7 linked regions of the Homo sapiens genome follow. The protein of the gene in region 6 purifies or fractionates together with the protein of the main gene of each other region. This does not show direct contact. Each region holds a gene or a part of one and is shown on either strand. Other genes may lie near its edges. The genes, in order: SCARB2, PASK, BRAF, NOTCH2, SORL1, CCN6 and LRP6.

Region 1 (3,500 bases), on a different chromosome or scaffold from region 6:
ACTGCACTCCAGCCTGGGCAACAGAGTGAGACCTGGTCTCAAAAAACAAAAAAATTATATATATATAAAAAATTGTTTATATATACGTATATCATATATATGTGTATATATACATATATATATACAACTGACAAAAGTATTTTTCATCTTGAAGACTAGTTTTAACAGCCACATGTATATATTTATGTATGTATATGTTAATATATTTGTTAATATATGAGTATATTAACAAATTTTATAGTTATATATAAATATGCATATATTTGCATATACTTATATTTGCTATATTTTAATATATATGTATATAGTATATATATATAGGTATACACACACACGTGCGCAAGTGTGCACACACACTCATGGTGCACACACATGCATGTATGTCCCAGGGTCCCATGTTGGATATACCAGGGCCCCAGAATCTACACTTTTAACAAGTACTCCAGCTGATTTCCATAAAGATGGCGTCTAGGTATTTGGGGACCATTGTGCAAGGGAACATGGTACCCTTTACCTGGAGATAAAGACCAAGGGTGAATGGGAACAAGTTCCTGGTTGTGATCTCCCCCATTGCCTTACTGGTAATAGTCCTGAAACAGTGTCCCTGCCCCCTCATCTGGTGTGCATCTGGCTCAAAGCAAAAATGTAGATATATTTTCTCTTGCTGTTTTTATTAAATTCTGTTTCCTTAAGAAGCTGATGCCAGAATCAACAGAAGTATTCTACTTTACACATTTAAACTTCTTGCTACAATCCTTTTCCTCTTCCCTCTTAACGTATTCCCGAATTTGGACTGAAGTGAAACTCCCCAGGATTATCCTCCAGTGTTTTGAATTCTCCAGGGAAACATTTTGGATAGCAGGATGAGTGTTCTGGAGTCAGGCAGATTGGGTTTGAGTCCTATTCTATTTGTTGGTAAATTGGCCAAAGTTTATTAAGGAGGGTTCCAGACATCAGTTTTCTCATTAATAAAATGGAGGTGGTTATAGCTTCTTGAGGTTGTGTGAGAGTTAGAAATAATATATATAAAACACTCAGGACAGTAGCCCCTATTAAGCCCTCAACAGATTTAAAAAATACATTTTCAAGGTCATTATAGGTCACAAAGAAGGAAGTCATGCCTTTGTGGAACTATTCAGCAGTAAACAGCAAAATGCATGTGCATGTGAGAGATGAGGGATGAGTTCCTTAAGCCATGGGCTGGTGAATATGTAAGCAAATTTAAATAACTTGCCGACAAGCTCCTTTCTCCAAAAATGTATTTCCCTGGCAGCAATTGTTGGGTCCCTCTCTTCTTTTCAATAGCCAGATCTAGAATAGGTTTCCTTTAGTAACTTGTTTCCCTATTTGGTTATATATATATATATATATATATATATTTAAATTTACATAAGCACTTATTTGGTTCTTAAAATGAATAGGAAAGGAAAAACCCCAGAATCTTTGTGATCTGGTTAGAGGCTGGGTGTATAGCACAACCAGGCTAACTCTTAAAAAATTATGTAGGCCAGGTGTGGTGGCTCAAGCCTGTAATCTCAGCACTTTGGGAGGCTGAGGCGGGCAGATCACTTGAGGTAAGGAGTTCAAGACCAGCCTTGCCAACATGGTGAAACGCTGTCTCTACTAAAAATACAAAAAAATTATCCGGGTGTGGTGGTGCATGCCTGTAGTCCCAGCTACTTGGGAGGCTGAGGCAGGAGAATTGCTTGAACCTGGGAGGCGGAGGCTGCAGTGAGCTGAGATTATGCCTGTCTTTGGTAAAAACAAAACAAAACAAAACAAAAAACCACCAAAAATTTTTTTTTAATTTTAAAAAGGACAAGAAATAAAAAGTCAGTCCACTTACTGATAGAGAATTGTAGTTGAAACTAGTGCTTTGAGGTACAACACCCTTCATTCACTTAGTATTCTGCCTTCATAGCCTGATGGCTAGCTGTCCCTGGGTAAATTTTGTAACTTCTATGAACCTCACTTTCTTCAAATGCAAAGTGAGGCTAATAGTTCTGACTTTACTGGGCTGTTGGGAGCATTAAATAAAATAATGTGTATGAAGCACTTATACTTTAACTTCAGTAAATATTTGTTGAAGAATAAATAATTTAGCCTGAACTTCAATATATAATGTGGAATAAAAAATTGGGGGTAAATGAGATGTCAGAAAATGAAGTATAAATCCTGAACTAGGAGGTAAAGGATGGTGTTTTAGCCTACCCAAGTTAATTTATATGTAGCTTTTTTGTTTTTCTTTAGGAACCAGGCTGTGGCCAGGAACTTTTATATTCAGCTCAGCTTAGATTTTAAAAACAGCATCATTCATTTCTGTTTTCCTTCAAATGCAGGTGCACCCATCATTATGTCTTTCCCACACTTTTACCAAGCAGATGAGAGGTTTGTTTCTGCCATAGAAGGCATGCACCCAAATCAGGAAGACCATGAGACATTTGTGGACATTAATCCTGTGAGTACATACTTCCTCCTGGTAAAAGAGCATATGTTTTATTCTGTCTATACATTGTTCACCAGTTTAGTCCTGAGCCTTCTTTAAAAATATCCTTACTTTCATATACATATTCAAGTGGGAGAAATTCAGCTCAGTGCTGATGGAGGCATTGTCTCATAGCCCTGTAATTAGAAGGCTGAATTTTGTGGATTGAATAGCAGAAATACGAGCAAACCTGCCTTTAACAAAAAGCAACAGTGAAAACTCAGTTATTGGAAACTACTGATGTACCCATATAACCTGGTCAATCTTCTGATGCTAGCCTTGGACCTCAACATATATTTATTTCTCCCCTTGGGACACAGATCGATAAGGTTAAAGATGTCCCTTTGCTTCCTCACTGCCAGGAATATTTTGGTTGAAATATGAATATGTATATTAACCTCAGTCACTTTTGGCAAACTTCTTTCTACAGGTTATTTGAGAGTTTATTATATTATTAATTGTAAAGGTATCAGATATACATAGAGGAGACATACACACGTGTGTGTGTGTGTGTGTGTGTGTATAATACACATTTACTCCTGTATTCATAGACGAGAAAAACAAAAACCATGCTAACCATGTCTTCATTTTTGGAATTTGAACATTATGGACCAATAAAAAAAAAAAACAAGAACATTCTTTTAGCACAGTATTTTATGGGTACTTCACACTCTTAGCTGCATACATTGCATTTGTATCTGAGAAACCAGTGATCTTATGCTCTGGTGAATAAAATCGTGTGTGGTTTTCTCCCTTTTCTCTTAGCCATCAGCTGATCAGTTCCCTTGGATCAGCCAAACTGTTAGCAGTGCTTGTCACCAAGGGACGAACACAGTCTTATAACCTTAGTGCAAAGATGGAGCTGCCCTAAGGATGACAAGTGCTGCAGCTGTGCCCCATGGCTACGCTAGGCGGGCCCTATACTAGGATGCCACTCTCTGGCAGTGACCACCACCCTCTTCTTAGCTCTCTGGACAACTGCCTGGAAATCCAGACCTGACAGGCTATCTTTTAG
Region 2 (2,937 bases), on a different chromosome or scaffold from region 6:
TCAGGAACTTCCTTGTGGACACCAACCACAAGACGTGTCTACCAGAGGGGGGAGCGGGGGGAGGGCTTCCTGGAGGAAGCAGAGTACACGTCCATTGGCTTTGCTGAGGGCCACGGGAGCTGCAGGCCACTTCAGAACAGGGTCACGTGCCCTTCAGACGTGATCAGGCATGTTCACGATCTTGGTGTGAACGGGCTTGGTGTGACCATGGACACACATGCCCTTTAGGAAGATGGCTGTGGCGACGATGTGAAGGGTGCTGCAGGACGAGACTGAACAGGGAAAAACACCGAAGGATGAAAGCAAACAAGAAGGACGTGGTGAAGGTGGGTGTTCACACAGTGGGCCAAATGGAGGAGCAAGCTTCAGGGAGAAGACACCCAAAGGACTATTGTTACTTCCTGTCGCCGTAAACATCCTCATCCACGCTACCATTTATTTCCTGTCACCGTAAACATCCTCATCCACGCTACCATTTATTTCCTGTCACCGTAAACATCCTCATCCACGCTACCATTTATTTCCTGTCGCCGTAAACATCCTCATCCACGCTACCATTTATTTCCTGTCACCGTAAACATCCTCATCCATGCTACCATTTATTTCCTGTCACCGTAAACATCCTCATCCATGCTACCATCTATTGGGTACCTAGAGATGCCAATGCTGTACCAGCATTTTACATGGCTTAACCCAAATCCTCACAACAACCTAGCAAGATAAATATGACTTTCATTTTGCACAGAAGAGCAAGGCTTGGTGAGGTGAAGTTGCTGCCAAGCACGCACCAGAGCCAGGTCACCAGCACCCACAGCCCTGCCCCTGCACTGGCCAAGGCCATGCGTCTCCAGGTCCGCAGCTGGGGGTCTGTCCCCAGAAGAGGTCTGGGAAGCAGCAGCCTGTTCTCAGAACCAGAATTAGACAAGGGAGCCAAGAGAAACCACAGCAGTGAGAAGAGTGGCACGGACAGAGCCCCGGGCTGGACTCGGAGAAGAGGGGCTGGGAGGGAGGGGAGGGGAGGGGAGGGGAGGGCTCAAGAGGGCAGATCACAGAGGCCAGAGCAGCAGCGTGGGTGAAAGTCGGGCCCCCAGGCTGAGTCAGCAGGGTGGTGGGGTGGCTAGCACAGACCGCAGGGAAGCTGAGCGGACGGATGAGAGCTGTAGGGGCTAGAGCAAGAAAATCAGTTTCAGCAGTTTTTGTTTTTGTGTTGTTTCTGTTTTTTAGAGAGATTTCAAGATGTTTAGAAGCTGAAGAGAAATATCCAATAGAACAGAACAGAGGTTGGCAAACTTTTCCTGTGAAGGGTCAAATAGTAAATATTTCAGGTTTTGGGCCACATGGTCCCCACTGCAACTCAACTCTGTCATGTAGGACAAAGGCAGCTACAGACGACACATAAGCAAATGAGCACAGCTCCATTCCAATAAAACTTTATTTATAGAAACAAGAGGCAGGGGATGTTTGCACACACGTTTGTAGCAGCATCACGAACAACATAAAGATGGAAGCAAAAGGTAGAAGCAACACAAATGTCCACTGACAGATGAATAAGTACAGCATATCCAGAAAACGCAATCAAATTCAGCCTTGAAAAGGAAGATGCTGGCACAGGCCACAACATGGATGGACCTTGAGGACTTTATGCAAAGTGAAATAAGCCAGTCACCAAAAGGCAAATGCTGTACGATTCCACGTATAGGAGGTCCCTAGAGTAGTCAGATTCATAGAGAAAATAGCAGAATGGCAGCTGCCAGGGCCTGAGGAAGGGGAAGAGGGACCTAAGGCCACAGTCTGCCGACCCTGGAGTAGACGGAGATGAAGATGACAAGACAGAAGCCAGGGCCCTGAGGATGGGATTGAGAATAAGAACTCAGAAACCCTTTCATCCAGGGAGATGGGGAGAGGACGCAGGAGGGAGGAAGGAGCTCCTGAGAGGAGGCCTGCAGCCCCGCAGGCCCAGGAGCAGTACACCGCTCACAGCCAGAAAGGAGAGGCCAGGAGGCAGGGCAGAGCCCTGGCAGGGCAGGCGCTCAGGGAGAGGGTGGGAGCCACAGCTCTGGGAGGCAGGGCCAAGGTGGCCAAGCAGCACTGAGCTCTCGCCCAGGTTGGATCCCCCCTGCACCCTCCCCAAGCTTCACGGCCTGGGTACAGGAAGGGGTGACAAGCCATGCAGCAGGCATCATGGGTCAGTGGACAGGGGACAGGCAGTTCCCTCCAGCACGGAGGGCACGACAACCACTGCAGGGCAGGCAGAGCCCACCAGCGCCCACCAGGCTCTAGGGCAACCAAACTAGATCTGAAGGGAAACTCCACGGCCCTTCTTAGACCAACCCCCTTCGATATTTCACGCTGTTTGGTGGCTCTGAAGATGCATGGAGGTTCTAGCGGGGAAGAGCCCATTTTCACTTCCTCCATACTCTGCACACAGGGCATCCAGGCCCAGAAGAGCTCAACGCTGCCTGGCATGGAGAGGTTGGCGCAGGCTGAGGCTGCTGGGCTCTGAGGACTCAGGGTGTGCAGCCTGGAACCTGCACCTCCTAATGAAATATGGCCTAAGCAGACACCAGGATCCAGAGCCCAGCCACTCCTCTCCCCAATGCTGAGGCCCTCCCGAGAGCCCAAGGCACGGCATGGAGCTCGTGCGTGACTGCGAGCAAATGCCCTGGCCTCAGGCCACCAGGTCAGGTGCAGCAGGTCTGTGAGGGACCCCGTGTGCCTCTCCTGTGGGGGCAGCATCAGCTTCCCTCCTAGAGAACCACATGGAGCAGATATGGGCGGTGCAGCAGAGCACTGCAGCAGAGGGCCAGGAGGGTCCAAGCAGTGCTGTGATCATCCGACTCTCTAACCATGAACTCACCTAGAGATGCATTCCAACCACACCTCTCTAAAATACATGTAGGTGTTAGTGGAAAACACCTGCTATCTATTTCTGACTTA
Region 3 (3,500 bases), on a different chromosome or scaffold from region 6:
ATTACTAATAATCATATATTTAATGCCACTGGAGGATTTAAAAATCATATACTTAGATATTTTCCAATAGTTGTACTTCTTTATTCCTTAGTATCATTTTTAAAAATACGTGAAATGTTCCTTTTCATTTTCTTAACTAAAGTCATGAATCAATTCTGATTCATAATGGCATTACTTATCTTAAGCTACCCAAATGAGGGGTTAAAGATTTGCCGTAATTATTATTGAGTGATTTTCCTGGATGACATCTAAGTATTCAAATAAAGAAAATGTTTCAAAAATTTATTTGTGGGTACTTAAAAACTAAATTATCATTAATTTAAAGTCTTCTCAATTTCCTTCTTTATTGACTTCAAGGAGGCATTTATGCAGATATGTGTTTACTGGAAGAACCTTGATCTATTGGCTACATTTAAAAATCATGACAAAACCAAATTGAGTAAGTGAAGATATAGTTAAGAGGCTGACAGTGAAGCAGAGATGGCCAAATCTTTGATAGGACCACGTGCTGTTGCTTTCTACTTTTGATTCCCTCTGAATCACAGTAAGAATACACTGACCACCACATTACAGTCATTTTCTACACAACAAAGTGTAAGTACTAAAGAACCCTAACAAATACTTCATACCATTGAATGAAAAAAGGAGAAGAGCATTCATTCATCATAAGTAGAATCTTGCTGGGCAAAGAATATAAGGAGGACAGAACATGAGACACAATGATAAGGTGATTGCTAAAATATGCATCATGAGAGGTAAGAATAATCTAATAACAACTTTAAAAAATCTATTACCTGGTGTTTGGCAACCAGAGGTATCTCAAAGAAAAACACACCTAAAAGTTCTCACAGAATTCTGTGAAGATTTTTTGCAGGGGAGAGATTGGGTGTGAAGGGAGCAATGCGTTTGCAACAAAATTTGACTTCTACATGAGCGAGACATCCTTAATGTATTTTAAAAAAAGCTATTTAAAAGAAACTCCAATTTATAACATTTTCCCGCTAAAAATCCGAAGTTAAGACATTTTACTCATGTCAAACGTGCCACTCCTCAGCAATATTTTTGGTCACCTGCACTCAAAATTTATAAAAAGAAACTTAGTTTATTGCTTCAAGGAAATAAAAGACATCCACATTTTCCAAATTGTTATAAAAAGAAATAGTTATAGAAAAATTATTAAGAATAATAATAGAATTATTAAATTCTACTGACTTCCTAAATTAGATCTGTTCAGTTTGCCTTATCTAACCCAGGCTAACCGACTGCCAACTTCTCACCTGCAAACACAGGCATAGGTAGGGTCTTCTTCTGGAGTCCCTAGTGGACATGTGATAGCTGGCAACAAAAGTTGCATGAGAAACTGAAGTTTACTACTTAAAATAACCAAGTGAATGATACAAACCCGGAACAGAAAGTAAAGCCTCTAGAAGAGGCTCTGCCAATTTTTAGCAATGTCTATGTATTTTAACCCTTGGATGTTAAAAATCCAATGTTAAGTATAAATTTTAGTTTGGGGAAAAATTATATCTAGTCTTTAACCACACAAGTGTTCTTTGGTTCACCTTAAAAAAAAAGAGAGTATTTTATTCAATTTAACATATAAGCAAACATATGTTCATTTATTTTCCTTTTGTTGCTACTCTCCTGAACTCTCTCACTCATTTGTTTCAGTGGACAGGAAACGCACCATATCCCCCTGCCTGGATGGGTGTTTTTGGAGAAGCACAAGCATATAGACTAAAATCCTCTGTTTGGAAACCAGCCCGATTCAAGGAGGGTTCTGATGCACTGCGGTGAATTTTTGGCAATGAGCGGGCCAGCAGCTCAATAGAGGCGAGAATCTACAAAAAAAAAAAGAAAAAAAAAAGAAAAAAAAAGAAAAAAGAAAAAAAAAGAAAGAAAGAAAAAGAAAAAACAGAAAGAAGAATGAAAATCTGGGTGGTATAAATCTTTAAGAGTCCCATCACACTTTACAAGAAAGCACCTGAAATCTTACATTGTTTTCAGCATTGTCATAAATGCTTGGGAAAATATTTGTAAATAATTGGTATTTTTTCTTAAGAAGAAACTCTCTCTGTAAATTAAATGGGGAGAGTAATTCTTAGTCAGCTTTTATTTATATTTTAGATCATTTGTTAGTCTTGAAACAGTAAATAATAGAAATTTAAAACCAATTTTATACCTTTTTGTTATAGACCACAAGTCTCTTTTGGGAAGAAGATGGAGTATAAATAAGTAAAGCACTTTATGACTATCTCTAAACAGAATTATCACAGCTACTTGCCCTTTAAAGAAACCTAGCCATGGGAAATGTTTTACATACACCTAATTGAAAGCAGAACCTCACAGACCCAGAGTGCTAGTAGCACATGAGAAGTGACAGGGGACAACCCAAGAGCAAAGATAGGAGAACTCGACAAATAGACCCCAATATATAAAATGCAGAAATTCACAATTTTAAGGCACAAAGAAACAGGTTATAATCCTTGAAGGCATACAGCATGATAATGCATGTTCATAATCATGAAACATGTTTAAAGGGCTTGGCATAATGCCTGGCCTATAATAAGCACTCAATAAAACCTTAGCAGCTATTATTATTACTTTTGTTATTGTCCTGAGATACCAATTTTTTTTTTTTTTTGAAACGGAGTCTCGCTGTTGTCAACCAGGCTGGAGTGCAGTGGCACAATCTCAGCTCACTGCAACCTCCCCCTCCTGGGTTCAAGCGATTCTCCTGCCTCAGCCTCCTGAGTAGCTGGGATTACAGGAGCGCACCACCATGCCCAGCTAAATTTTTGTATTTTTAGCAGAGACAGGGTTTCACCACGTTGGCCAGGCTGGTCTCAAACTCCTGACCTCAGGTGATCTGCCTGCCTCGGCCTCCCAAAGGGCTGGGATTACAGACATGAGCCACCATGCCTGGCTGAAAATTGTTTTTAAAAGTTAAATTTTTTTTAAAAAGTAATCTTTATGATGATTAGTATAAGACAAAGAAGTAAGCAGTTGCAAAAAATTGTAAATTCCAAGTATAACATGCAAATAAAAATTAAAATACTATAGAAATGTATAAAGAGTATAAGGCTCTCAAATCCTGCTCTCCAGGGATAACCACTGTTAGAGTCTATACTTTCTTCTGTACCTTTTTTTTTTTTTTTTGAGATGGAGTCTCACTCTATTGTCCAGGCTGGAGTGCAGTGGCGCGATCTCAGCTCACTGCAACCTCCGCCTCCCAGGTTCAAGCGATTCTCCTGCCTCAGCCTCCCGAGTAGCTGGGATCACAGGCGTGTGCCACCACGCCCGGATAATTTTGTATTTTTAGTAGAGACGGGTATCACCATTTTGCCCAGGCTGGTCTCGAACTCCTAACCTCAACTGATCCACCCACCTTGGCCTCCCAAAGTGCTGGGATTACAGGTGTGAGTCACTGCGCCTGGCCTCTTCAGTACCTTTTTTTATGTATAAAAATACATACATGAAAACAAGGCCCACCTGAACAC
Region 4 (3,500 bases), on a different chromosome or scaffold from region 6:
TCATCTTGTTCTCTGACCAAGCTAACTGGCTAGACCCACTGTACTGGCATTTATCCATTAGGTCAAAGTGTCAGAATTAGCAGTGCATGGTAGACATAGCATTAGTCCTGCCTTTCAGGGATGTTAAATGCTTCAAAAATCTTGGCTATCTAGAAAAGGAGGACAGTAGCCGATTACGTCACCCACCCAAAATCATGTATTTGACTCCAGAATACACTGCTTTTCTCCAACATATTTTTTTATTAAGTATTAAAGTAAATGTCAATTTCCTAGACATATACAGCTGAAAGCATGCTGATTTACGATACAGTCAGATAAGAACTTTCAAGTAGCTACAGAAAATAGCAGTTAACAAATGAATTAACCAATATCATTAGAAACCAAAGGATTAAAAAAATTAACCTATGAAATGAACAATTTTTATATCAACATTGGTAGCAATTTGATGTTATGTTATATACTGCTAATTATTTCCATACATATTGTGACATATTTAAGACAAAAGACTAACACCCTTAATATTTAAAGAGCTTTTTCAAACCAGTAAGAAAATAATTAAATGAGTAAAAGACACAATTTACCAAAAGAAGTAGAAAAAAAGGCAATACAAACGCCACTGATGATATGAAAAAACATTCAATATCACTGTAATGAGAGAGGCATATTAAGATTAAGTAATATTTACCACTTATCAAATGGTAAAGATTTTTAAAAATAAAACCTAGTGTTGACAATAGTATATTATGTGTGTGTGCATATATATATATGTAGATCTGTTCATAAACTAAATATATATATATATATATATAAAAATAAATCAACAGCTTTTCTAAATCTAAGGGTAAAAAAACCAAAGACGTATACCAAAAAATTAATGGCAGCATGATTGTGGACATTTTATTTATGCTTTTCTAGATTCTTCAAACATCCTTAACTACTTTTTCAAACATAATTACTTTTTATTTTACAAAAATAAAAAAATCTTGTAAAGGTGCCAGAGAAAATCAGCAAAGTATAAATACGAGTTAATTATCTGTAAACATAACGAATAATTCTGTTGCTACGTAAACCTACCTTAAACTGTTTCAATGTTTGTTTTTAGTTACAACTATTTTCCTTAACTCTCTTAGAAAGAATATGTCAGAGAAGCCACTACATATTACTTACTTTAAATAGTAACATAATGCCAAAGACTTGCATGAATCTCAGGATACGGTCTTTTACCTAAAATTCCTCATGAAGATTAGAATGCACTTTAAATGTTGTAATAAAGTAAATGCCCTTAATGTTTCTAACTAAAGAAGATCTAGCAAATAAATAAACCCATATTCACAGCAAATAAAAATATAATAAAATAATCGAAATACACATGTCCTCAAACTTCAATGTGTCTTGACAGCGTCTGAACCAAAGCATGTGTAAGGAGAGAATTAAACAAAAATGTCTTTGCTACTTACCACATTTACCATTTAGAGAAGTTGATATATCAGCACTATCTAGTTTTGTGATTATTCATACTTAGAAACTCAACAGAACAGATTAGTGAGTAAACAGTATTCAATTATTCTTATTTGAATGTTGGTTAGGTATACCAATAGAACAACCTCTCCCTGCTAGGTACCCGTTAAAATAGATTATTGAAAATATTTGAAGCTTAAAAACTTACAGAATCTTCTCACAAAAAAAAAGATGAAAATAAAAAGAGATGAAAAAGAAGCAAACAACAATTTTAAAACGTGCCTGCCTCAGAACAAGGCAGTTTATTTTAGAATGTAACCACAGCTTCTTGTACAACACCTTATTCATCAAGCACAACTGTATTTTAAAGGAATGCTATTTGTTAAAAAGACAACATATTTAGGATAAGGTATCTAACTCCAACCACAATATTATCATCATGTTTTCCTTACTTCACAAAATACACACATACATTCATCATATGAATAAACATATATAATAAGGGTGAGAGAGCTACTCTTAACCCAGAAACAGGTTCTGCAACACCCATAGATCCAACCTGTCTTTATGCAACAATGAGTCCATCTTGGCAAGATGTTTGGCTGATGTATTCAAATAACCCAGAGTTCTGCCAGCTGCCAGTATCCTGCAGAAGGAACTGACTCGGAGACCAGAAACTGCCCTAGGCAAGCCTCCAGGGAAAGGTGCTTCAGTCCAATGGGAAGAAAAACCCAGCCCCTCACTGCCTGGCCAGAGGACCCGGGGTACCATGGCTGGAGCGACGTAGCTGGCTGGAAATGCGAGAGGGGCAAGGGACACTAAGGTGAACCCCCAAGAGCTTGTTCAATCATACCTAGTAAAGGCCAAACTATTGGGGAGCTAGTAGAACAGGGTTTTGCCAAGACAAGTACAAAAGGGTGAGGGAGATATTAGTATGATTAATCAATGCCACCTGAGGCAGCAACTCTGGGTGTGTCCACACCACACTTCAGTCACTGCCTGGCTGTGACGAGAAGTTCCTTCAGCCACTGCCACTGAGAACTGCATCTTCCAAGGAAGATATCTCCACCATAACTTGTCCTAGTTCAGGCTTGGCATTCGGGACTAAGAACACAGCACTCTCTCTTGCCGCAAACCCACTAACAGACATAATAGACACCACAACATGTGCCAAATTTATATTTACACCCTCACCAGACAAAGGGGTTTTTGTCTTTTCCCCAAGCCAAGTTCTAATACTTCTAAATTACAACACAGAAAGAGGAAAATGGCAGACAGCTCACGACAGCAGACAAGCCCAGCAAGGGTGAGCTGGAGGTCGCCTTTCCCTGGTGGTATTAAGACCTGAAGTTTACTCCCAAGACCCTATAGCTCCGAGTCACCCTGACTGCAGGAAACTGCTTTCAGAGAGCATAGATAAATGATAAAATAACTGTATTTCATATTCCTAATTGTGTGCTTATCTGTCTTGTCTCCATGATGATGTCAGCTCCTTGGGAGCAGGACCATATTTTCTACTTGGTCAATGATTCCCACACATCTAGAAGAGGAGAATACCCTGTACTTGCTACCACATGATGCCAAGGGAAGCACACAAATTAAGTGTGACAACACACCACAATGCTCCCCCAATACACCACTAAGACAGCAGAGCTACAAAGATAGCAAATGTTAGTGCCAAGGGCTAGTGATCCTACCAGTGAATTACATGGAAACCTATGTATTTACATACACAAGTTAATACAATAATTCCTTTGCTTTTCTTATTCCAAGCTATGGCTTTATCATCCCCCTTTCTTGGCTTTACTCTCCTTTTTAAGACCACAACGTATGTTCTGCCATACAGATAATATTCTCCTCAAAAAAGAGAGACAGGAGAAAAAACAGATCTACGGCAAACCTCCTACCACTACCAGTGATGCAGTTTGTCCCGTCTCAAGCCTATGAGCATATCCTTTCAGATCTGAAGCCACTTCCTTCTTCCTATCAAGGACAGTATTATCAAGTGTCTTTGTGAGAGGAGCAATCCTGTGCCCCTTCTT
Region 5 (3,500 bases), on a different chromosome or scaffold from region 6:
ACAGCTACTGTCTGCACCCACTGCAATTCTTCCCCTCCCTTTTCATCCCTTATTCTTTCAACAAATATGAATTGAGCACCTACAAAGTGCTAGACACTGGTAAAACTATCGGGGAATAAAAAAGACCATCTCTTTCTTCATGGGGTTTAGGGTTTCATGGTGGGAAAAGTTAATTAAAACAACACCTAACTACACAGTGCCATTCCAGCAGAGGTAGGTACGGTCAATGAGCAATAGGTCATCTGGGCAACCAGAGAACAAGCAAGAGGCCCTGTCAGGAAGCAACAACTATCTGAGCACCCAGCACAGAGTCTCTTCCTGCAAGCATGCCAAACAGGGATTAAGCACATGTTAGGACTCTCCCAGCTGCAACAGAAGCCGCGCCACCAATCAGTCAGGGGCCAAGGGCAGGAGGAGGGTGTAATTACCCACCAAGCACCAACACTCTAGGCAGGCAAAAGCATGCTGTCTTCCAGCTGTTTGTGTATCATTAGAAAAGAAATTAAGATGTCATTAGGAAGAAATTAAATAATGTGCATGTTGTCGTGACAACAAAGATGCAGGCTGCCAGCTCCTACTCTGAGCAGAGATTGGCCACACGCAGCCCCTTTCTTGAGATCAACTCTACAGAGACAAAAGAAGAGACTCTGGCTTACCAGTGTTCTTCCCCTTGTAGAAAATCTTCATGTCCATGAGCCCCGTGAGCTGGTTTGCCAGAATCTCCATCTGGGACCCACTGTATTTGGAAGCTCGGAATATGCTGAGCTGTGACCAGTCATCCCAGTAGATTTCATTCTAAAAAGAAAACCTTTGCCCATTAGTCCAGCTCTTTCGTTCTTTATTCTGGTTCTCTCTAAGGGTAAGAGTTCCCCCAGGCAGGAGACAACTAACATTTATTGGCTGAATGACTAGCCTGATCAAGATTCTACTTAAATGCAAAGGACAGCAATTTTATCCAAACCTCACCATATAACCCCACAGAAGAAACTGCCCAAAAGAAACTATCTGATAAGCATTCAAGTTTATGACACAAACCCAACCCCCTCAGTTTGAAATCTGTTTCCCAGAGTTGGGAAGAGCCATGTTGCTCTCCAGAGTCGAAAAAGAACTGCAAGGCACTATAGGTGGTGCAGAGCTCACCGGAAGTCATCAGAGAATAAAGTGAGCAAAGCGCACAAAAAATGAAGACACCACCCTGAAATGAGGCTACTGACACTGAGGGGCAAACTGGGAATGTTCATGGGAAGAGCCTTCACTTTTAACCTTTTGAAATGTGAACAGCAGGGGAGCCTGGACCCTTGGCGCCTCTGCCTGGCATCCCTCCATAGGCTGAAAATAAGTTATCTCAAATTTGGAAAAAAGGCAACCTTTAAGAAGTTAAACAGCTTCTCTGCAAAGCCCAGGGATGCAGGCTCCTGATCTCATATGCTCCTCACCCGCTCTAGCAGACTGTCCGGCAGCAACAAATGGACTCACCTTAAAGACAGCAATGGCATAGGGGTGCGGGAGGTTGTCCAGAATGACAGAGCGCTGCTGGCCACTGAACGTGATCCGCTCTATGCACTCCAGGTAGGCATCCGTCCAGTAAATCCACTGGTCGTCCACAGAGATGCCATTGGGCCACTTCACATCCTCAGACACCAGGTGATAGGCAGCAGAACCATCCATATTGCTCCGATAAATCCCAGGCTTCAGGTCTCCCCAGTCTGTCCAGAACATCACCCTAGCGAAAATGGGGACAGAACACATACCTCATCAATACTAGAGAAATGGGAGCTCAAATACTACTCCAGAAAAGGTCAGAAACTCCTTTCGAATGATCCGGCTGGTTATTTCAGCATTATTATAACAATATGTAATGACAACACCTGAAACTACTTAAATTCCTTCACCTGGAAATTCCTTTACTAGAATTTATCTATAGATAAAATCAAATTATGCAAAGATAATATACAAAGAAATGTATATGTATGTATATTAAACTAAATGTTAATCAGCAGAGGAAGTGACACATTATGGTACATATAATAGAATACTGTGAAACCTAAAAATCTATATATGCTCACACAGAACTATTTTCAATACATATTAAGTTTGTTTAAAAAGGTACAGAATAGTAACTACACTACAATCCTATTTGGCGTGCATGTGTGTGTATATGTGTGTGTTTTAAAGATAATACTTGTACATAAGTAAAAGCAATCATGAAAGATACACAAGACATTATTAACAATGATTACCACTAGGAAGTGTGAGGGTAAAGGGTTAAGAATGAAAAGGAAGAATGCAAATTTTTTTCATAAAGTGCTGTTCTCTCTAAATATTGTCAACCAAGTACATACATTACTCTTAGAATTTTCCTTGAAAAAAATTGTGCCAATTCTCTATCATAAATGCTACGAGAGAGGAAAAGCCAGAATGTCAAATCCAGAATTTCCCTCTTAATTATGTTTCCTTCAGTTAATGAGTTAATAAAAAGCACCTTTGCCTTCCCCAAGTGCACACTGATTGTACGTAAGAAAACCTACACATGCTGGGAAGGCAGGGGAAAGATGGAATGAATTAAATGTTTGTACCATGCATGAAACTCAAGAGAAAGTTCTCACAATATCCAAGCAGGCCTGTCTATGTCTACAGAAGCTCTCTTTTAACATCAACTTTTCTAGAGAAACAACCCACAGATGCAAGACATCTGGATGCCTAAAGAGACTCTGACACTGGCTAACAAAAAGCGAACGGAGTTACCTGACCACGATGACTAAGCTGTGGTCTCAAACTTCTCAGTTAATAGACCATTTCAACCACCATCATGAGAAACAGAGTTTTTGTCCCGCAGTCTGTGTTTCCATGAGAATCTATTAGTGTAGCATTGGACGCAAGACTGATTTCCTTTTGGGGCAACACTTACCCCTCTTGGGGCACGAGGACCAGAGCCCTGGGACGATCAAGCACAGAGGAATTGACGATTGTGAGTCGGAAGTCGCCATCTGGATTAGCTACCTGACAAAAACAGGGGGAAAAGAGGCTGAGATGGATCGGAGCTCCTTAAAGACCCCCATTGCCAAAGATGGCTACTCAGCTTCTGCTACAGACATGCCCCCTCCATGCCTGCCTATTTCCCTGACCTGACCCATCTGCGAAACCTGCCCCAACTTCTAGTCACAATGCGCTGTTCCTTCCTCTGACTCATGGGACAATTTTCAAGTGGTCTGAAAGAGGAGCTAGAACCATGTAAGCCCCAGTTTCCAGGGCATGATGATCTGGACAAAGCAGTATCAATAAGTAAATTACTCAAATAAGTAAATAAGCAAATGAGCATTTACTTATTTCACCATCCCGTGTCACTCCACGTTCCAAGGCAATCGATGACTCCACACTCCCATAAAACAAATTCTCAATGTCACAGCCTTGCAATGAAGAGTCCACAGGTGGGACTCATATTCTTGCTCCTTCCCGTCAGCCAGGCTGGTCATCTCTTGCTTCTCCAAGCCTGATGCGGA
Region 6 (4,294 bases):
CTGCACATTGTGCACATGTACCCTAGAACTTGAAGTATAATAATAAAAAAAAAAAAAGAAAAGAAAAAGATCAGATTGGACCAAAACAGACACATTTTCTTCACTACTCCATTATCTGGTTTTGTCCTATTTCTTAGGGAGGCAAGATAAGGCGTTGGCATCCTAACTGCAGTGGGTATTCCTTGTTGTTTGATGTGCATATACTTACAGTTTAATGACTCCTTAGTAAGCTCTGTGTGATCTGCAGGTTTTAGGGTGTCCATGGTTCTCCAAGGACACCAGATTCTCTGTGGTGGAGGACAGCCTCGTTTTTCCCAGGCCCTCAGCTCAGGCCTAAGCGAGGCTTGATGTTGTCTTTATACAGTAGTGACTGCCTTGAACAGTAACAAAGGTGAGCAATCGGTATAGGATAGGTAAGGCAGCAGGAAAAGGAGGGATAGGTAACTGATCAAAGGAAATAGAAATAGGCCTTGGGATGGGGGCAGGCAGGTGGGACGCCTCAGGGACCTGAGAGGGACAAAGCACCACGGCAGCTGCAAATGAAGATGGGAACACAGACCCAGGCTGAGAACATGGAGAAGCGAAGGTCCCACATGATGACACAGGAGGAGATGCGCTGGTGGTCACACCTTTCAGGGAGGTGAGTATGAAGAAGAGGAGTACAAACCTGTCAAAATTTTATTTTTAATCTTTTTTTTTTTTTTGAGAATAATTCTCACTCTTGTCCCCCAGGCTGGAGTGCAATGGTGCGATCTCGGCTCACTGCAACCTCCGCCTCCCAGGTTCAAGCGATTCTCCTGCCTCAGCCTCCCAAGCAGCTGGGATTACAGGCGCCTGCCACCACACCTGGCTAATTTTTGTGTCTTTTTTTTTTTTTAGCAGAGACGGGATTTCATCATATTGGCCAGGCTTATTTTTAATCTTAATTCATTAAATGAATGATTGCTACCAGTGTAATTGTTTTATTTTAGGCCCGGAAAAATGGAGGTTAACTTCATTGTCATCTGTCATGGAACTGTGGCCACAAAAAGAGGCGTCTCTCAGGCCAGGTACTGTAGGAGTCCGCCCCCTGCTCCATCTGTATTTTTTCCACTCACAGTCCACCTGGCATGAGAAAGGTGTTGGGATAAAGGTGAGCCCAGGGCACTGTGGGTGCCTCCGAGAGAATCTGAGCTGGGGGAGTCAGGGTCCTTCGAGAGCCTGCCATTAATATGGAGGGGGAAAGCCAGGGCTAGGCTGCGATGGGTGCTGTTGGTGGGGGGGCCAGGCCTGCACTCTGTACGTGAGGGTGAAGCTGGAGAAGGAAGCAGCCTAGAGAGGACCCGGAGCAGGGCAAACACAGATGGAGAAGCTGAGGGCAAGGAAGGGAATGACGTGGGACCCCACCCGTTGTCGGGGGCAGGCTCTGCTCTCCAGGAACAGGTAACACAGTCACTTAGAGAACAGTCACTACTTGCCCTGCCCTCCTGAGTCCCGGGAGGAAAGTGCTCGCCCATTCCTGACCTGTGACACGCTCACTGCGAAGGCAGGTTATTAGAAGAGTCCCATGAAAGTAAACAGGGTATTAAAACGGATCCTTAAAAATGAAAGTGCAGGCTGAAAGTTGGTAGTGTGGGAGGTAGAGGGTGTGTGTTCTTGTGCAGAGGAGCGTGGGGTTTGCAGAGGAGACAGGGGAGCTTTGTGTACCCGGAGCAATGAACAAGCGGCGACTTCTCTACCCCTCAGGGTGGCTCCACGGTCCCAGCGACATGCAGGGGCTCCTCTTCTCCACTCTTCTGCTTGCTGGCCTGGCACAGGTAAGTCCTCTCCCCCGACTCTTTCCCTTCCGGAGGCTATGGCCATCCTTAGTTCTTCAGGCCCAAAACTAAACAAAACGAAGATGGAGGAAGAGGGAGGATCAATGGCTTGTGGAACTACTTCATGAGAAATAGGAAGCCATTTTTCTTTCCAAATAAAGTTCTGTGTTCGTTCATGAGCTTCATGAAAGAAATGTAAAACATTTCTCCCTTTCAGGTAATGGCACCGAAGCCTCCTTTCGCTATGTTTGAACAGCGCCACGCTTTCCTATATATTTTTATAGCAGAGCCTAAGGCACAGCCTGGCACAGTGCGGGAAACAGTGTCTCTCCATGCCAGCTCCAGGCGGAGGCTCAACTTTCCATTGCTGTTTGCAAAATGTGCAAAGAGCCCCTGGAAAAACGAATTTTGACAGCGACTTTTTCCAGTTAAGTCTGTCCTTCTTTGAAAGGGGCACTTTGGAATAAACATTTACATTTTTAAAACATTCTCTTACTTTGTCTTTTCTCAGTCCATGTGTTTCTCACTTCCTGAAAGGGAAGCAGTCCATGGAGGCTTGGAAATATTTCAAGCAACAGACCAAAGGGAAGTTTAACTTACTATGAGCAATTCATTGCCTTAGTCTTTTTAAATAAGAAGATGAAAACAAGGTGACTTAATTGTTGATTTATTTACACGGTAGACAGGAGACAGAGCTTTTGAAATCTGGTGATTTAGGAAACATGGGTGTGTCTGTGAGTTAGTAGTTGATTGGGGCCATAAGTAGTAGATACATCTTAGAAAACAAGGAATTGCAAATTGTTATACCATATAGAGAGAGATTTACGATTTCAAAAGAATCATGACAAGAATGTCAGTGGTCCAGGTCATTGCTGCTGTTCTGTGGAGGGGCTCACTCCCCTGTCTGTGTGCCTCCTATTCCACTGTTCTTGAGAAAAAGCCTGTCATTGTGGATTGAGAGCAGCTAGATGTTCTTAGACAGCAGGTATTCCAACACAGAGAGATGTGTACAAAATAAACAACAACAAACACAGAAAGGTGTTACACAAAGAGCGGTAAAAATGGATTATTTTGTGCTTAACTTTGCTTTTATGAATTCATAAATTCATGAAATAGCTGATAATACCTAGCATTTACTGAATAGCTGCTATATGCCAAATACTGTGCTGGGTGCTTTATTTATTTATTTATTTATTTATTTAGAGACAGAGCCTTGCTCTGTCGTTCCAGGCTGGAGTGCAGTGGTGCAGTCTTGGGTCACTGCAACCTCCACCTCCTGGGTTCAAGCGATTGTTGTGCCTCAGCCTCCCAAGTAGCTGAGATTACAGGCCTACACCACCATGCCTTGCCAATTTTTGTATTTTAGTAGAGATAGGGTTTTGCCCTGTTGGCCAAGCTGGTCTTGAACTCCTGACCTCAAGTGATCCGCCCACCTCGGCCTCCCAAAGTGTTGGGATTACAGGTGTGAGCCACCACCTCCGGCCCAAGGGTGCTTTAGTTATTATCTTAATTATCAAAACAACTTTACAAGGTGGTCATTATTAATCCCATATTACAGAGGAGATCAAATGATGGGAAGTTCTGTAAGATCACAGAGCTGTTGCAAAGCTCGGATCTGTTGTCAAAATGCTTATTCTTTCTATTGCACCATTCTAGTGATGCTTATTGTCCTGAAATTTTGCTGTTGAAAACAATCAAAATATGCCTGAGGAAAAGTGAAAAATATAAGATTCTTTATATTTACCCACATATTGACTATGTCCAGGCCTCTTCATTTCTTCCTGTATTTCTAAGTTACTATCATAACAGAAGATCTTCAGACCGAAGATCCTCCTTTAGTATTTCTTGTGAGGCAGATCAGCTAGCAACAATTTCTCTTAGGTTTTGTTTACCCAGAAACGGTTTTTATTTCACCATCATGTTTGAAAGACAGTTTCACTGGCTATATAATTCTGGATTGACAGGATTTTTTTTTTTCTCCGTTTAACATTGTCTCTGGGCATCTTGTTCTTCTCCATCTCTCCCTCCTCCTCCTTCTTTTGATGAGAAGTCAGATCTCAGTTTTATTGTACTTCTGTATGTAATGCTTCCCCCTTTTCTCAGTCTACTGTTATGATTTTCTTTATTTTGAGATGGAATCACCCTCTGTTGCCTAGGCTGGAGTGCAGTGGCGTGTCTTGGCTCACTGCAACCTCTGCCTTCTGGGTTCAAGCGATTCTCCTGTCTCAGCCTCCTGAGTAGCTGGGACTACAGGTGCACGCCACCACACCTGGCTAAGTTTTTGTATTTTTAGTAGAGATGGGGTTTTGCCATGTTGGCCAGGCTAGTCTTGAACTCCCCGCCTCAAGTGATCCACCTGCCTCGGCATCCCAAAGTGCTGGGATTACAGGCTATTTCAGCTTCATTTTTGAAAGATGGTTTCACTGGCCATATAATTCTGGGTTGACAGGTTGTTTTTTTTTCCTTTCAACATTGTCTTTGCACATCTTCTTCTCAAT
Region 7 (3,500 bases), on a different chromosome or scaffold from region 6:
AAATTGCTTTTTAACAACAGAGAGATGCTTTCAGAGCTGGGAAAAAAAATCCATATTTAAAACAACTTCTTTTTATACTTAAGAAACACACTTTGCCTGTTCTCCTTACTCTTAATTCCCTATAGAGAGAGGGCACGTTGGAGAAAGTATACTGATTTAGGACATTTTAAGGGACTTCCAGTTTGGAAGAACACCAGTTCTTCTGTTTTTCTTCTTAATGAGAATGTTATTCTTCATTCTCACCCCTATGGATCACCATCTGGTTCTCTAGCAACCAGCAAGACCTGGTAAGAAAATTGTTGTATTTAGCTGTGGCTTCTTTATCTAACTCTGAAAAGCAGAAGCCTGTGTTTTGGAGTGTGTTAGAGTCCCTGGCAAGGGGGCCAGGGAGTCAGAGAGATGGAATTGAGTCTGTGTACAGGATGTTTGTTATGACTTGGCATTGATAAATTATCCTCATAGTAAAAGGTGAAGCTGGCTGACTCTTGGTCAAATGGTTTCCATGGCAGACAGCAATTTGGTTTCAATTTAAAACAAAAGGTTTTTGTAATGTTGCTTTTTTCTTTAAAAATGTAGCCTGACTTTAAAACAGAGGATTTATTTTAGCAATAATGGTCTATCTGCTCCCTCACAGCAGTGCAAGTGTACATATTTAACCAGTTTTGAATTTCATGTGTGCATTTGGCATGTAGTAGCCTTAAGTTAACTGTTCTGTTTTGATCACCTTGCTCAAATTAACAGCTCTATGACTTCTTTGTGAAGTTCTAGGCTGGCTCCTTTTGGTTGTTAGCCGGGGCAGTGAATTGTACAAAGTTATTCCTACTTGGTTCCTGCAGTGGCATTTGGGCTGTATTTTCTTCAAGTTGGAATTCATTTATAATTAGCTCTAGAGTGAAAGGGCTGATATTGAGAGGCTTCACTCCTCTTCTCAGTTTTTTGACTTGTAATTGCAGATTGATTCTTGAAGTTTATATGCCAGTATTTTGTTTTGGACTCATTTATTTAGCTGGGAATCTTTTCTTATTCTTTCAGTTGTCAATTTGCTTACTGTCTTTTATTAGCTTCCTATAGTTAGACGATTTTTTGCTGGTGGTTTACTTGAACAATTTAAAATGAAAAAAAGATTGAGCTCAGTATCTTCATTCTTGGTTATGTGGTTAAGTATTTGGGGCTTGGGCTTTAAACAGTTCATAAATAAACCTAATTTAAAATTCAGTGAAATAAAAATCTGAAAATCTTTATTTTTTAATACTGTTGTTAAGTATTAGTTAATATTTCTTGAGTACTTAAATGTTCAGTACTTTCCTGAGTTTTAGATTTATCTCCTTTAATCCTTACAACAACCTTACAAGGTATAGATGGGGAAACTAGGCTTAGCGAGATTAGATATTTTCCCAAAGTTTGTGTAGCTTCTTGAATCAAATTATATTGGATCCACAACTCTTAACCACTGTGTTATGTTTATCTGGTTCCTTCCCTCCATTGCAGCTGTTTGTTTCTCCATAGCTTGCTTTGTCCTCAATTCTGTGAGGTATTGCCCTGTATTTCTCTTTGTTAAGACAGTTTTACTGAGATGTAACTTACATAGCATATAAAATCCATCCATTTTTTAAATTGTACAATTCGGTGACTTTTTAGTAAATTTACAGAGTTACGCAGTTATCACCACAATCCAATTTTAGAACATTCCTATCAAGCACAAAGATTCTTGTCCTAAATTTCTTTATCTTTTTTTAAAAAATGCTTCTTGAACAAAGGATCTATATCCTACATTTCCTTCTCCTTTAATACTGAGCTACTTAGCTTCTTAGTCATTACATAGTCATTATTCATTGTACTTTTAAATAGCTGGATTAATTCCAATGAAACCATAGAATGTATCACAACTTAATTTGGAGAGTTAGCCATTAAACAGCTTGACCTCAGAGTAGACTCTTCTATTTCACTGTATTACTTTCCATTTCCACTCTAAAGAGAGTGCACATCCTTTTGTGTTAATTTATGTATATTTTATATTTATTTTTCAGTTCTTGATTCTTTATCTAGAGCAGGTAAATTTTACCTCTGGGTTTCAAAGTATTCTTCATTTCACTTTGTTGTTCTAGGTGCCACAGAATTATTGCTTTTAGCTCGAAGGACAGACTTGAGACGCATTTCTTTGGATACACCAGATTTTACAGACATTGTTCTGCAGTTAGAAGACATCCGTCATGCCATTGCCATAGATTACGATCCTGTGGAAGGCTACATCTACTGGACTGATGATGAAGTGAGGGCCATACGCCGTTCATTTATAGATGGATCTGGCAGTCAGTTTGTGGTCACTGCTCAAATTGCCCATCCTGATGGTATTGCTGTGGACTGGGTTGCACGAAATCTTTATTGGACAGACACTGGCACTGATCGAATAGAAGTGACAAGGCTCAATGGGACCATGAGGAAGATCTTGATTTCAGAGGACTTAGAGGAACCCCGGGCTATTGTGTTAGATCCCATGGTTGGGTAAGAAGCTCTACTGATAGTAAATTCTGTGTGGTGTTTCTGTTTTTCACAGGTTCCTGAAAACATTGACTAAGATAACATGACATATATATTGGTTTCCAGTAAACAGCTCTTTAATGGCTGTCTATTTTAGGATATGGTGATTAGAATACAATCTCAAGTTTAAAAATTGCTAGTTTTTTGCCTTGGATGTCTTAGATATTTTTTCTTTCTAAATTAAGTCCATGTTTGCTGACTTTGGGTGTTGTCTGCAGATTTTGCTCGGATTGCATCATTACCATGAAAAATGTGGGAAGAAATTGTTTTCAGAACTCTTTCCCTTCCCCTAGAAGCTTTAATTCCATTTTCAGTACTTTATAGTAAGAATATAGCTTACTTTTTTTTCCCTAAATACATGAATGACTTGATTTCCAAAACTTTGCCAGCCCATGCAGCTTTACTTCTAGTTTGTTGTTGTTGTTTGTTTTGTTTTGCCATGCCACCCTGATCATAGTCCAGGGAAGTACAACTTTTTACATACTCAACAATTTTGTTACTTTGAGATTTATTCTGAGGACAAGCATAGTGACAAATTACACCTCAGTATATACCAATGCCTTAGAGCCATCTAAACATCCAGGAGCCGTAAGAATCACTTAGCACTGCAGGAAGAAATAGTTATTTTGAGAATTCAGTTTGCCATCTGACTAATACTGCTGGGATAAGCCTTTTGTGTCAGAGAGATGACAAGCCATCAAGGAAAAGAGAGAGAAAGTTCATGGAAAAGGGCACACAAAATATTTAAAAAAAAAAAAAAAAAAAAGAAGTAAAACTGTAATCTCATTATTGGGAGGCATTTTCAGGATTGGCTCTAGAACACACTGATCTGAAAATTTCCCACAATCTTATATATTGCTGGGATAAATGTCTTAAACACCTCTTCATATGTTTTTTTTTTTTTCCCCTTCCTTGGCATTAACTGATGATACCAGTGTAATAGGAGGGATGGATCTCACCTT

What was found.
Region 1: the proteins of CCN6 (region 6) and SCARB2 purify together in Homo sapiens (affinity purification with mass spectrometry, with the first as the bait; one large-scale study listed by BioGRID). This does not show direct contact.
Region 2: the proteins of CCN6 (region 6) and PASK purify together in Homo sapiens (affinity purification with mass spectrometry; one large-scale study listed by BioGRID and IntAct). This does not show direct contact.
Region 3: the proteins of CCN6 (region 6) and BRAF purify together in Homo sapiens (pull-down; one large-scale study listed by IntAct). This does not show direct contact.
Region 4: the proteins of CCN6 (region 6) and NOTCH2 purify together in Homo sapiens (affinity purification with mass spectrometry; one large-scale study listed by BioGRID and IntAct). This does not show direct contact.
Region 5: the proteins of CCN6 (region 6) and SORL1 purify together in Homo sapiens (affinity purification with mass spectrometry; 2 studies listed by BioGRID and IntAct, with this or other methods). This does not show direct contact.
Region 7: the proteins of CCN6 (region 6) and LRP6 purify together in Homo sapiens (affinity purification with mass spectrometry; one large-scale study listed by BioGRID and IntAct). This does not show direct contact.

What each region holds. Positions count from the first base shown.
Region 1 is NC_000004.12:76,168,825-76,172,324, reverse strand, and holds part of SCARB2 (lysosome membrane protein 2), read left to right. Parts: intron 1-2,339; coding exon 2,340-2,458; intron 2,459-3,500.
Region 2 is NC_000002.12:241,108,536-241,111,472, forward strand, and holds part of PASK (PAS domain-containing serine/threonine-protein kinase), read right to left. Parts: intron 364-2,937; coding exon of another isoform or gene 164-363; exon of another isoform or gene 1-163. UniProt on the Homo sapiens protein: Serine/threonine-protein kinase involved in energy homeostasis and protein translation. Phosphorylates EEF1A1, GYS1, PDX1 and RPS6.
Region 3 is NC_000007.14:140,732,930-140,736,429, forward strand, and holds part of BRAF (serine/threonine-protein kinase B-raf), read right to left. Parts: intron 1,842-3,500; coding exon 1,668-1,841; 3' UTR 1-1,667. UniProt on the Homo sapiens protein: Protein kinase involved in the transduction of mitogenic signals from the cell membrane to the nucleus. Phosphorylates MAP2K1, and thereby activates the MAP kinase signal transduction pathway. Phosphorylates PFKFB2.
Region 4 is NC_000001.11:120,059,663-120,063,162, forward strand, and holds part of NOTCH2 (neurogenic locus notch homolog protein 2 isoform 1 preproprotein), read right to left. Parts: intron 1-3,500. UniProt on the Homo sapiens protein: Functions as a receptor for membrane-bound ligands Jagged-1 (JAG1), Jagged-2 (JAG2) and Delta-1 (DLL1) to regulate cell-fate determination.
Region 5 is NC_000011.10:121,556,814-121,560,313, reverse strand, and holds part of SORL1 (sortilin-related receptor preproprotein), read right to left. Parts: intron 3,001-3,500; coding exon 2,909-3,000; intron 1,724-2,908; coding exon 1,477-1,723; intron 796-1,476; coding exon 657-795; intron 1-656. UniProt on the Homo sapiens protein: Sorting receptor that directs several proteins to their correct location within the cell. Along with AP-1 complex, involved Golgi apparatus - endosome sorting.
Region 6 is NC_000006.12:112,052,610-112,056,903, forward strand, and holds the start of CCN6 (cellular communication network factor 6 isoform 1 precursor), read left to right. Parts: upstream 1-1,494; 5' UTR 1,495-1,725; coding exon of another isoform or gene 1,726-1,748; coding exon 1,749-1,796; intron 1,797-4,294. UniProt on the Homo sapiens protein: Plays a role in mitochondrial electron transport and mitochondrial respiration. Through its regulation of the mitochondrial function may play a role in normal postnatal skeletal growth and cartilage homeostasis.
Region 7 is NC_000012.12:12,180,045-12,183,544, reverse strand, and holds part of LRP6 (low-density lipoprotein receptor-related protein 6 isoform b precursor), read left to right. Parts: intron 1-2,105; coding exon 2,106-2,502; intron 2,503-3,500. UniProt on the Homo sapiens protein: Component of the Wnt-Fzd-LRP5-LRP6 complex that triggers beta-catenin signaling through inducing aggregation of receptor-ligand complexes into ribosome-sized signalosomes.